Homo sapiens: one gene and its partners. The protein of the gene in region 1 purifies or fractionates together with the protein of each later gene. This does not show direct contact. Each region holds a gene or a part of one and is shown on either strand. Other genes may lie near its edges. The genes, in order: MFSD8, CNIH4 and TMEM106B.

Region 1 (3,655 bases):
CAAAGTATGGGCATCTAGGGTTCTGGTATTTTTCTCAGGTAAGCTACATTATTTTTATTTTTTTCTTATCTCCTTTGACTCAGAAGAGGTTTGTTTATATGGAATGACATATATAGTGTTAAACACTTTAAATATATTAGGAACTAATATGTTTGGCATATAATACATCTAAAAACATTGTTTCTCTTCTTCCTTTCCTCTTTACCACTCCCAACCATATCACGTTTGAAAAAAAAAAGTTTCTTTTTTGAAGACTAATTTGACAGTTCTAAGGCTTATTTTTAAGAAATTAATCTTGGAACATAAGAAGGCATTTTGTCTGTTCTGCATGTCTTGATTATTTGAAAAGATAATGCTCACGTTAAGGTGAACTTGTTAACTCTTTCTATTGTGTGTGTGAAAATGTAATGAGTATATAGACTCATGTGTCACCTAATGGAGGTAAGATATCTACTTAGTATACATGCCTTTGGTCCAGATCAGACGCTTATCCAAAAGATCACTTAAGTCTGGGGAGTCATGGTCTCTCTTTGGTCTGCTGATAAAATTTATCTGGTAACCCATTTAGGAGGTCCCAGGGCTGAAAATGTCTTAGGTTACGTTAAACCTTCCTGGTATCATTCCTGTTTTCTGAAGTAGGAAGCCAAAAGAGCTTCCTGCAGCAATTTAATTTGCTGTCATCAAGTAGAGCATGTTATAATGATGACAGTTATTATTTTTTAGTACTTAGTAGCTACGGGGGATCTAGTTGTAGCTAGTTTATTTGATTTATCTTGACGTAATTTATTCATTTTTACAAATTGCAACACTCTTGATTAATAAATCTGTGCATGTCAATGGTAGCAAAATAATTGCCTTGCAAAAAGTTTCCTCTTTTAAAACTATACTGTTTCCCAAATTTCTGTATACAATAATGCATATATACAATCCATGGAAATTCAAAAAAATAATGCTTATTCATAGATAAATTAGTGTAGCAGAATCAATATTGGTAAATTCTACCTCTATCACATCATTTTCATAACTAGAGAATAAAACTGTTGACACTTAAGATCCACATGTAATGAGATAAATTTATACTACTTTTTTCTTCTTTACACCTAGAGAATGGGACATTTTAGAGACTGAAGAGCATTATAAGAGCCGATGGAGATCTATTAGGATTTTATATCTTACTATGTTTCTCAGCAGTGTAGGTAAGTATTAGAAATACATAATTTTAACAATTCAGATCAGATGTCATATTTTAACTTCATTTACTTCATTTACTTTCATTGCCTCTGAAATTATCTTTATTGTGCTAAAAAATACGTGACATAAATTTACCGTGTTACCATATCTAAGTTCAATAGCCTTAAGTATATCCACATTGTTGTGCAACCAATCCCTAGAACATTTTCATCTTGCAAAAGAGAAACTCTATACCCATTAAACAACTCCCTATTTTCCCATCCCCCAAGCCCTAGCAAACTTTGTTTCTTGGAATTTGACTATTCTAGATAGCTCATATAAATGGAATTATATAGTATTTTTTTTCTTGTGATGAGATTATTTCACTCAATGTCCTCAAGTTGGTTCATGTTGCACTTGTGATAATTTCCTTTTATTTAAAGGCTGTATAGTTCATTATATGTATTCTAGGGTAGGAGAAATTTTTCCTCTATTCTCCTATGTGCTTAAGGCTTGTGAATTAAGCTGACAAAAGAAAGACTAACAGTTAAAAAAGTATACAAATTTATTTGATGTTAATATTTTTTAATGAAAAGAAACAAATAACATTAAGGAATGTACATACAAACGAAACTAGACAACTACTAAGAGTCCCTAACACTTTCATGTACTCACAAAAGTATTTCATCTTTTTTTTTTTTTTTTTTTGAGACGGAGTTTCACTCTTGTTGCCCAGGCTGGAGTGCAATGGCACGATCTCAGCTCACTGCAACCTCCACCTCCCAGATTCAAGCGATTCGCCTGCCCCAGCCTGCCAAGTATCTGGGATTACAGGCATGTGCCACCACCCCTGGCTAATTTTGTATTTTTAGTAGAGACGGGATGTCTCCATGTTGGTCAGGCTGGTCTCGAACTCCCAACCTCAGGTGATCTGCCCACCTCGGCCTCCCAAAGTGCTGCGATTACAGGCGTGAGTCACCGCCCCCAGTTAAAAATATTTCATCTTTTTTCTTTTTTTTTTTTTTTCAAGACGGAGTTTCGCACTGTCGCCCAGGCTGGAGTGCAGTGGCGCGATCTCGGCTCACTGCAAGCTCCGCCTCCCAGGTTCGCGTGATTCTCCTGCCTCAGCCTCCCGAGTAGCTGGGACTACAGACACCCGCCACCACGCTAATTGTTTTATATTTTTAGTAGAGACGGGGTTTCACTGTGTTAGCCGGGATGTCTTGATCTCCTGACCTCGTGATCTGCCAGACTCAGCCTCCCAAAGTGCTGGAATTACAGGCCTGAGCCACCGCACCTGGCCAAAAGTATTTCATCTTTACAGCCATCAGTCAATTATTTGTTCTGCTACTTCTTGAAGATGTGCAAAATTTCTTTTTAAAAAAATTTTATTATTTATTATTATTTATTCATTTTTTGAGGTGGAGTCGCCCAGGCTGGAGTGCAGTGGTGTGATCTCGGCTTACTGCAACCTCTGCCTCCTGGGTTCGAGCAATTCTTGTGCCTTAGCCTCCCGAGTAGCTGGGACTACAGGCGCACGCTATCACGCCCAGCTAATTTTTTTGTATCTTTAGTAGAGATGGGGTTTCACGGCGTTAGCCAGGATGGTCTCGATCTCGTGACCTCATGATCTGCCCGCCTCAGCCTCCCAAAGTGCTGGGATTACAGGCGTGAGCCACCCCGCCTGGCCAGTGCAAAATTTCTTAAGTTTAAATATACAGTCTTAATTATACCTGTGTCTTAATGTCCCAAGACAGATTGTAGGTAACAGAATCTCAATTGTGCCTCAAAGAATTAACAACAAAACAAAATTCAATCTATTCTCTGCATTCAGGCAGAAAGGGGGAGAGCAGAGAACCCTTCCTGCATCTGCTATTTCTCGGTTGCCTTCAGTTTGAGATAATTAATATGGCAAAACAGCAGATTTTTGGAGTAGCATACTCTGATTGCCTTCAGTATATACCACATTTTTTTTTTTTTTTTTTTTGAGACAAAGTCTCGCTCTGTCGTCCAAGCTGGAGTGCAGTGGTGTGATCTTGGCTCACTGAAACCTCCGCCTGCGGGGTTCAAGCAATTCTCTGCCTCAGCCTCCCAGGTAGCTGGGATTACAGTCACCCACCACCATGCCCGGCTAATTTTTGTATTTTTAGTAGAGATGGGGTTTCACCATCTTGGCCAGGCTGGTCTTGAACTCCTGACCTCGTGATCCACCGGCCTCAGCCTCCCAAAGTGCTAGGATTACAGCCTAGCCTGGCCTACCACATTTTGTTTAGCCATTTATCTGTCGATGGACATTTGGGTTGCTTCCACCTCTTGGCTGTTGTGAATAGTGCTGCTGTCAATATGGGTGTGCAAATATCTCTTCAAGATCCTGCTTTTAGTCCTTTTGGGTATATATCCAGAAGTGAAATTGCTGGATCATATTATGATTTTCTTTTTAATTTTTTAATTTTTTGGAAAATTGCCATACTGTTTTCCATAGCAG
Region 2 (3,655 bases), on another chromosome or scaffold:
GGCATTTTGCTGCCTCACCTTAGCAGTACTGCTACTAATAGCTAGCATTACAGGTGCTCATGCCCGGCTAATGAAAAAAAAAGAAAAAATTTGTAGAGATGGGGGTGAGGTGAGTGAATCACTTGAAGCCAGGAGTTCGAGACCAGCCTGGCTAACATAGTGAAACCCCGTCTCTACTAAAAATACAAAAAATTAGCTGGGTGTGGTGGTGGCGCGCACCTATAGTTCCAGCTACTTGGAAGGCTGAGGCACAAGAATTGCTTGAACCCAGGAGGCAGGGGTAGCAGTGCGTTGGAATTGCGCCACTGCACTACAGCCTGGGTGAAAGAGATGGAGGCTTGCTATGTTGCCTATGCTGATCTTGAACTCCTGCTTCAGGCGATCCTCCTGCCTCAGCTTCCCAAAGTGCTGGGATATTTCCCATTTTTTTTTTTTTAATAGCCATTGTTTTACATTTGAAGAACTCAAACTAAATGTTCTGGTTGGGTCAGATTAGATTTGAGCAAAATAGGATTATTTTGTAAAATAATTTGTTGAAGGAACATGAATGGGAAAATTGAGTTGTCTAATGAGCAAACTTTAGGAAACAACTCATTTTTTTCAAGTCAAATCTAATTCTGCCTTGTAACTGGGATTGCTTTCTGAAACTTAAATACTTAGTTATTATAAAAGAAATATAATAATTCCTTATCTTGATCATCAGATAATTACATTGTCTGATTTAGAATGTGATTACATTAATGCTAGATCATGTTGCTCAAAATTAAACAAGGTAAGACATTTCTTTGCTCATTCTCTGGCATTGAAGCCAGGTCATTTTCCATACTTAAGATTATTATAGATAACAGATGTATTTTTGATTTTAGAGTACATGTTGTCTCTTATTCATTGGAAATTTGATGGAACTGCTGTGTTTTACAATATTTTAGATCATGAAATTATGCTAGAAGATCTGACTTGAAATTTTGTTTCTTTATATGTTGCTTGTCTCTTGTTTACAGCGGATAGCATCTTTACTCAGAGTAGGGAAATGTTCATCATGAGGGTAATTGTTTTTGTCTTCTGCGTTGGAACTCCCTCCTCCCACTCACGGAAAAAAGCTCAAGTCTGTCTTTGGTTGAATGAAAGAAGACCTTTCTTGTGTAGTTTACCGAGAAAATAATTTTTTTTTAATGTATGACTCTTTATTTATTTATTTATTTATTGAGAGAGAAGGTTTCTTGCAGTGGTGATCAGGCTATTCTTGAATTCCTAGGCTCAAGTGATCTGCCTCGGCCTTCTGAGTAGCTGGGACTACAGGCGCATGCCACCATGCCTGGCTAATTTTTTTTTTTTTTTTTTTGAGATGGAGTCTCACTCTGTCACCCAGGCCGGAGTGCAGTGGTGTGATCTGGACTCACTGCAGCCTCTGCCTCCCAGGTTCAAGCGTTTCTCCTGCCTCAGCCTCCCAAGTAGCTGGGATTACAGGCACTGCCACCACACCTGGCTAATTTTTTTTGTATTTTTCATAGAGATGGGGTTTCACCATGTTGGCCAGGCTGGTTTCAAACTCCTGACCTCAAGTGATTCGCCTGCCTCAGCCTCCCAAAGTGTTAGGATTATAGGTGTGAGCCACCGTGCCCAGCCACCTGGCTAATTTTTAAATTTTTTTGTAGACTGGGTCTTGCTATGTGATCTAGACTGGCTTTGAACTCCTGGCCTTAAGCAATCCTGCTGTCTTGGCAAAGTGCTGGGATTACAGGTGTCAGCCACCATGCCTGGCCTAAGCTCCATATTTTAAAAATTTTCATAAATTTTGTTTGATTGTTTGAGGCAGAGTCTCACTCTGTTGCCCAGGCTGGAGTGCAGTGATGCGATCATGGCTCACTGCAGCCTTGACCTCCTAGGCTCAAGCGATCCTTCCACCTCAGCCTCCCATGTAGGTGGGACTACAGGTGTGTGCCACCATACCTGGCTGATTTTTAAAATTTTTTTGTAGAGACAGGGTTTCACTATGTTGCCCAGGCTGGTCTGAAATTCCTAGGCTCAAGTGATCTGCCCTCTTTGGCCTCCCAAAGTGTTAGGATTACAGTTGTGAGCCACTGCGCCCAGCCTCATGTAGCTTCTTGAGATAAGGTAACTGCCAATTAAATTTTGAGGCCTTCCATGTTTGAAAATGTCTTATCTTTACACTTGATTCATAGTTGTCAGAGTACAGGGTTCTAGGCTGGAAAAGATTTTTCTTTCAGAATTTTAAAGACACCCCTTGGTGGTCTTCTGACTTCCAGTGGTTCAAGTTGGGAAGTACCATGCCATTTTTTTTTTTTTGAGACGGAGTCTCACTCTGTTGCCTAAGCTGGAGTGCAGTGGTGCGATCTTGGCTCACTGCAAGCTCTGCCTCCCGGGTTCATGCTATTCTCCTGCCTCAGCCTCCCAAGTAACTGGGACTACAGGCGCCCACCACCACGCCCGGCTAATTTTTTTGTATTTTTTAGTGGAGACGGGGTTTCACCGTGTTAGCCAGGATGGTCTCAATCTCCTGACCTCATGATCTGCCCGCCTCAGCCTCCCAAAGAATTTCTCATCTATTCTATATGATTCTCATTCTCATTCTCTCTCTCTCTCTCTCTTTCTCTCTTTTCCTGTCCTCTATGGGAAAGTTTTAGAATCTTTATCCTTGGTGTTTTGAAATTTTACAGTGCTGTATCGCTGTGTACTTTTTTTTTTTTTTTTTTTTGAGACGGAGTCTTGCTCTGTGGCCCAGACTAGATTGCAGTGGCGTGATCTCAGCTCACTGCAAGCTCTACCTCCCCGGTTCACGCCATTCTCCCGCTTCAGCCTCCCGAGTAGCTGGGACTACAGGCGCCTGCCACCATGCCTGGCTAATTTTGTTTTTGTATTTTTAATAGAGACAGGGTTTCACCATGTTAGCCAGGATGGTCTTGATCTCCTGACCTCGTAATCTGCCCAAAGTGCTGGGATTACAGGCATGAGCCACTGTGCCTGGCCCTCTGTGTACTTTTTAAAAGGCCTTTCTTGTTTGTTTTGGACATCTGATAGGCTCTTTCAATATGGGAAATTTTCTTGTATTCTTTCTTTGATGTTTCTTCCCCATCTTTTTTCCCTCCTTCTCTTCCTACAACATCCACTAACTAGACAATTGATCTGCTGGATTGATCTGCCAATTTTTCCTTTTTCTTAGTTTTATCTCTTTGATTTTTTTTCTGCTGTTTTTATTATTTCCCTTGCTTTTTCTTCTGAATTTTCTTTTTTTCTTTTTTCTTTCTTTTTGAGATGGAGTTTTGCACTTGTTGTCTAGGCTGGAGTGCAGTGGTGCTATCTTGGCTCACTGACACCTCCAACTCCTGGGTTTAAACAATTCTTGTGCCTCAGCCTCCTGAGTAGCTGGGATTACAGGGGTGTGCCACCATGCTGGCTAATTTTTGTATTTTTAATAGAGATGAAGTCTCGCCACGTTGGCCAGGCTGGTCTCCGACTCCTGACATCAGGTGATCTGCTCTCCTCGGCCTCCCAAAGTGCTGGGATTACAGGCATGAGCCACTGCACCCAGCCTTCTTTTGAATTTTCTAACAAATGTAGCATTTATGCTAAAATGATGATTTTTAAGAGGTTTTTATTCTCTTGGTTCATGTTTGACTCCTAGTTCTCTGCGAAT
Region 3 (3,655 bases), on another chromosome or scaffold:
CAGTTTTTGCCACGTTTAATAGACCATTCCTTTATCAGCTTTAAAGATGAAATACAGGTGACTGGTTTCTCTTTTGTAAATTAGCATATGTGAAAATGCCGTGTTTTTTTTTTTTTAATTATTAAGTTCTAGGGTACATGTGCACAGCATGCAGGTTTGTTACATATGTATACAGGTGCCATGTTGGTGTGCTGCACCCATTAACTCATCATTTACTTTAGGTATTTCTCCTAATGCTATCCCTCCCCCATCCCTCCACCTCACGACAGGCCTCGGTGTGTGATGTTCCCCTCCCTGTATCCAAGTATTCTCATTGTTCAATTCCCACCTATGAGTGAGAACACGTGGTGTTTGGTTTTCTGTCCTTGTGATAGTTTGCTTAGAATGATGGTTTCCAGCTTCATCCACGTCCCTACAAAGGACATGAACTCATCCTTTTTTATGGCTGTATAGTATTCCATGGTGTATATGTGCCACGTTTTCTTAATCCAGTCTATAATTGATGGACATTTCGGTTGTTTCCAAGTCTTTACTATTGTGAATAGTGCTGCAATAAACATAACGTGTTAATGTGTCTTTATAGCAGCATGATTTATAATCCTTTGGGTATATACCCAGTAATGGGATTGCTGGGTCAAATGGTATTTCTAGTTCTAGATCCTTGAAGAATCACCACACTGTCTTCCACAATGGTTGAACTAGTTTACAGTCCCTCCAACAGTGTAAAAGTGTTCCTATTTCTCCACATCCTCTCTACCATCTGTTGTTTCCTGAACTTTTTAATAATCGCCATTCTAATTGGTGTGAGATGATATCTCATTGTGGTTTTGATTTGCATTTTTCTGATGGCCAGTGATGATGAGCATTTTTTCATGTGTCTGTTGGCTGCATAAATGTCTTCTTTTGAGAAGTGTCCGTTCATATCCTTCGCCCACTTTTTGATGGGGTTGTTTGATTTTTTTAAGTTCTTTGTAGATCCTGGATATTAGCCATTTGTCAGATGGGTAGATAGCAAAAATTTTCTCCCATTCTTTAGGTTGCCTGTTCCCTCTGATGATAGTTTCTTTTGCTATGCAGAAGCTTTTTACTTTAATTAGATCACATTTGTCAATTTTGGCTTTTGTTGCCATTGCTTTTGGTGTTTTAGTCATGAAGTCCTTGCCCATGCCTACATCCTGAATGGTATTGCCTAGGTTTTCTTCTAGGGTTTTTATGGTTTTAGGTTTTTTAAATATTAGGTCTAACATTTAAGTCTTTACTCCATCTTGAGTTAATTTTTGTACAAGGTGTAAGGAAGGGATCCAGTTTCAGCTTTCTACTTATGACAAGCCAGTTTTCCCAGGACCATTTATTAAATAGGGAATCCTTTCCCCATTCTTGTTTTTGTCAGGTTTGTCAAAGATCAGATGGTTGTAGATGTGTGGTATTATTTCTGAGGGCTGTGTTCTGTTCCATTGGTCTGTATCTCTGTTTTGGTACCAGTACCATGCTGTTTTGGTTACTGTAGCCTTGTAGTATAGTTTGAAGTGATGCCTCCAGCTTTGTTCTTTTTGCAAACAATGTGTGTTTCTTAGGACATTGTTTTTGAAAGGACCGTGTAGCCTTGCCACTCATGAAAACAAAACAAACAAAAACCTTAGAGAGGTTTTCTACCTGTTTTACATGTTAACGTTTGTTTGAAAAGAGCACGGTTTGCTAACTATTGAATTAGGAAAAGGGATAATATTTATTGGCCAGCCATGAGATATATGTGAGTGACAGTGATCTGCCAGGAAGAGTGATAGTTGTTTTTTCTTGCAGAGGTTAATGGTGTGGTTAAGGTTGAGGTAGAGATGTCTGTGGTGGTGGTTGGAAAGAGGGAGGTTTGTCAGGACAGTGAGTGAAATGGAATGGTATGTTAAAGTGGAATCACTACTTAATTACAGAGAAAAAATGGATCCCGTGGATCCATTTATTCTTATTGCTTTCTGTCAAAAGTTGCCGGTTTAAGGGCTTTTTCTTTAAAAACAACAATATAGGAAAATATACGTATATGTGAATAAAACGTTTGTAACACAATGCTAATTGTAAATTGTTTTATGCAACTGGGGAATTGTTGGGTATTTTCTCACTTAGCCCTTTGGAACAAGGAACATATTTTCTTTTTTATACACTGTTTAAAACATTGGCCAGACTTTTTTTGGCCTACCTCCAAAGACTTTTTTCATGTCAAATAACATAAATATGTACTAATAAATAATAAAAAACCCTGTGATGTTTTCTTTTAAGTACCAGCAAGTATATTTAAATGTGAATATCATACTCTATTTTAAGTAATTATGCAGAAATTCTCACATTTTGGAATACTGCCACTTAAACTGAGACAGACTGAACATTAAATGAAAAATAAGATTATTTGGATGAACATTAACTAGATGACAATGAGATAAGAGGCTGAATTTTCTGTACATTATCTATAAGTATGTTGAAAATGGAACTGCTTTGCTTTCTTAAAATGATTAGTATATATTAGTAGTACTACTTTTTAGTAACATTTGTCTTTCTACTTATGAAAATATTTGTCATTATAAGACATTTGAGAACTATAATGTATAAAGATTTTTACTTCTGCTACCTAGGTCGAACTATTACCATATACATATATTTACGAACAATGCATATACATTTACAAATGTAATCATTCTCATGTGTAAAGGATACACACATTCATTCACATATATACAAATGCACATTTCAACTGAGGTCACAGTACATTTTCCCATGTTAAATGGTCTTGTGTAGTCTTTTACATGATCATATTATAATTAATTCAACCATTTTCTTAATGAATGTTTAATTTTACTATTACAAATATTAGGAAAACATCTTTGTGCTTAAACTTTGTTTCCATTTCAGGTTATTTCTTTAGGATAAATTCCTGAAAGTACATTTGCCAATTAAAGATCATAGGTAGTTTAGGGTCTTTGTTAACAATTATGGTGATCTCTTTTCATCTTTTAAATTAAATGGATTCTCACTACTCTGAGCAACAAATGTCTAACCTTTATTACTAAATTTTTATTTATTCTGTCTTATTTTTTCTTTGTCTTAATTCTCATAAGGATTTGTATTCTCAACCTGTATTACATCATTGATCCCTTAAATATTCTAATGAAACTGTGGACAGTACAGAAAAAGACATGTACCAGCATAATTTTGCATATACAAAGACTTCCAAGATTCTTCTAAATTTCAATCCTTGGTCTTATCAGAAGATCCATTGACCTCAAATTAACTATCTCTTTCCTATCATGTCTAGAAATGAAATTGACATGAACATTAAGAGCCAAATAGATAAAATGTTTATATATTTAAAGATTATTTTTACTGTGTTTGAGAACATTTTTGAAATTTCTTTACATTTGTGACTATACCAATGTAAATGACTCCATAAATGTAATCATATAATTGCTGACTCTAGCATATTCTTTCATCCTTTTTTTTACTAAAACTATTTTCTCTCCTTCAACTCATCCCATATTGCATCTTTTCATATCTTTCTACATATTCCTATTAACATTTATGTATACTCACATATTCAGCTTTATAAAAATCAGTATTTTTAAAAAATATTATTTAGTACTTATTTATGTGCATCTTGGTTTTCACATTTGTT

What was found.
Region 2: the proteins of MFSD8 (region 1) and CNIH4 purify together in Homo sapiens (affinity purification with mass spectrometry; one large-scale study listed by BioGRID and IntAct). This does not show direct contact.
Region 3: the proteins of MFSD8 (region 1) and TMEM106B purify together in Homo sapiens (affinity purification with mass spectrometry; one large-scale study listed by BioGRID and IntAct). This does not show direct contact.

The regions. Positions count from the first base shown.
Region 1 is NC_000004.12:127,955,042-127,958,696, reverse strand, and holds part of MFSD8 (major facilitator superfamily domain-containing protein 8), read left to right. Parts: intron 1-1,104; coding exon 1,105-1,196; intron 1,197-3,655. UniProt on the Homo sapiens protein: Outward-rectifying chloride channel involved in endolysosomal chloride homeostasis, membrane fusion and function. Conducts chloride currents up to hundreds of picoamperes.
Region 2 is NC_000001.11:224,359,792-224,363,446, forward strand, and holds part of CNIH4 (protein cornichon homolog 4), read left to right. Parts: intron 1-703; coding exon 704-772; intron 773-3,655. UniProt on the Homo sapiens protein: Involved in G protein-coupled receptors (GPCRs) trafficking from the endoplasmic reticulum to the cell surface; it promotes the exit of GPCRs from the early secretory pathway, likely through interaction with the COPII machinery.
Region 3 is NC_000007.14:12,224,768-12,228,422, forward strand, and holds part of TMEM106B (transmembrane protein 106B), read left to right. Parts: intron 1-3,655. UniProt on the Homo sapiens protein: In neurons, involved in the transport of late endosomes/lysosomes. May be involved in dendrite morphogenesis and maintenance by regulating lysosomal trafficking.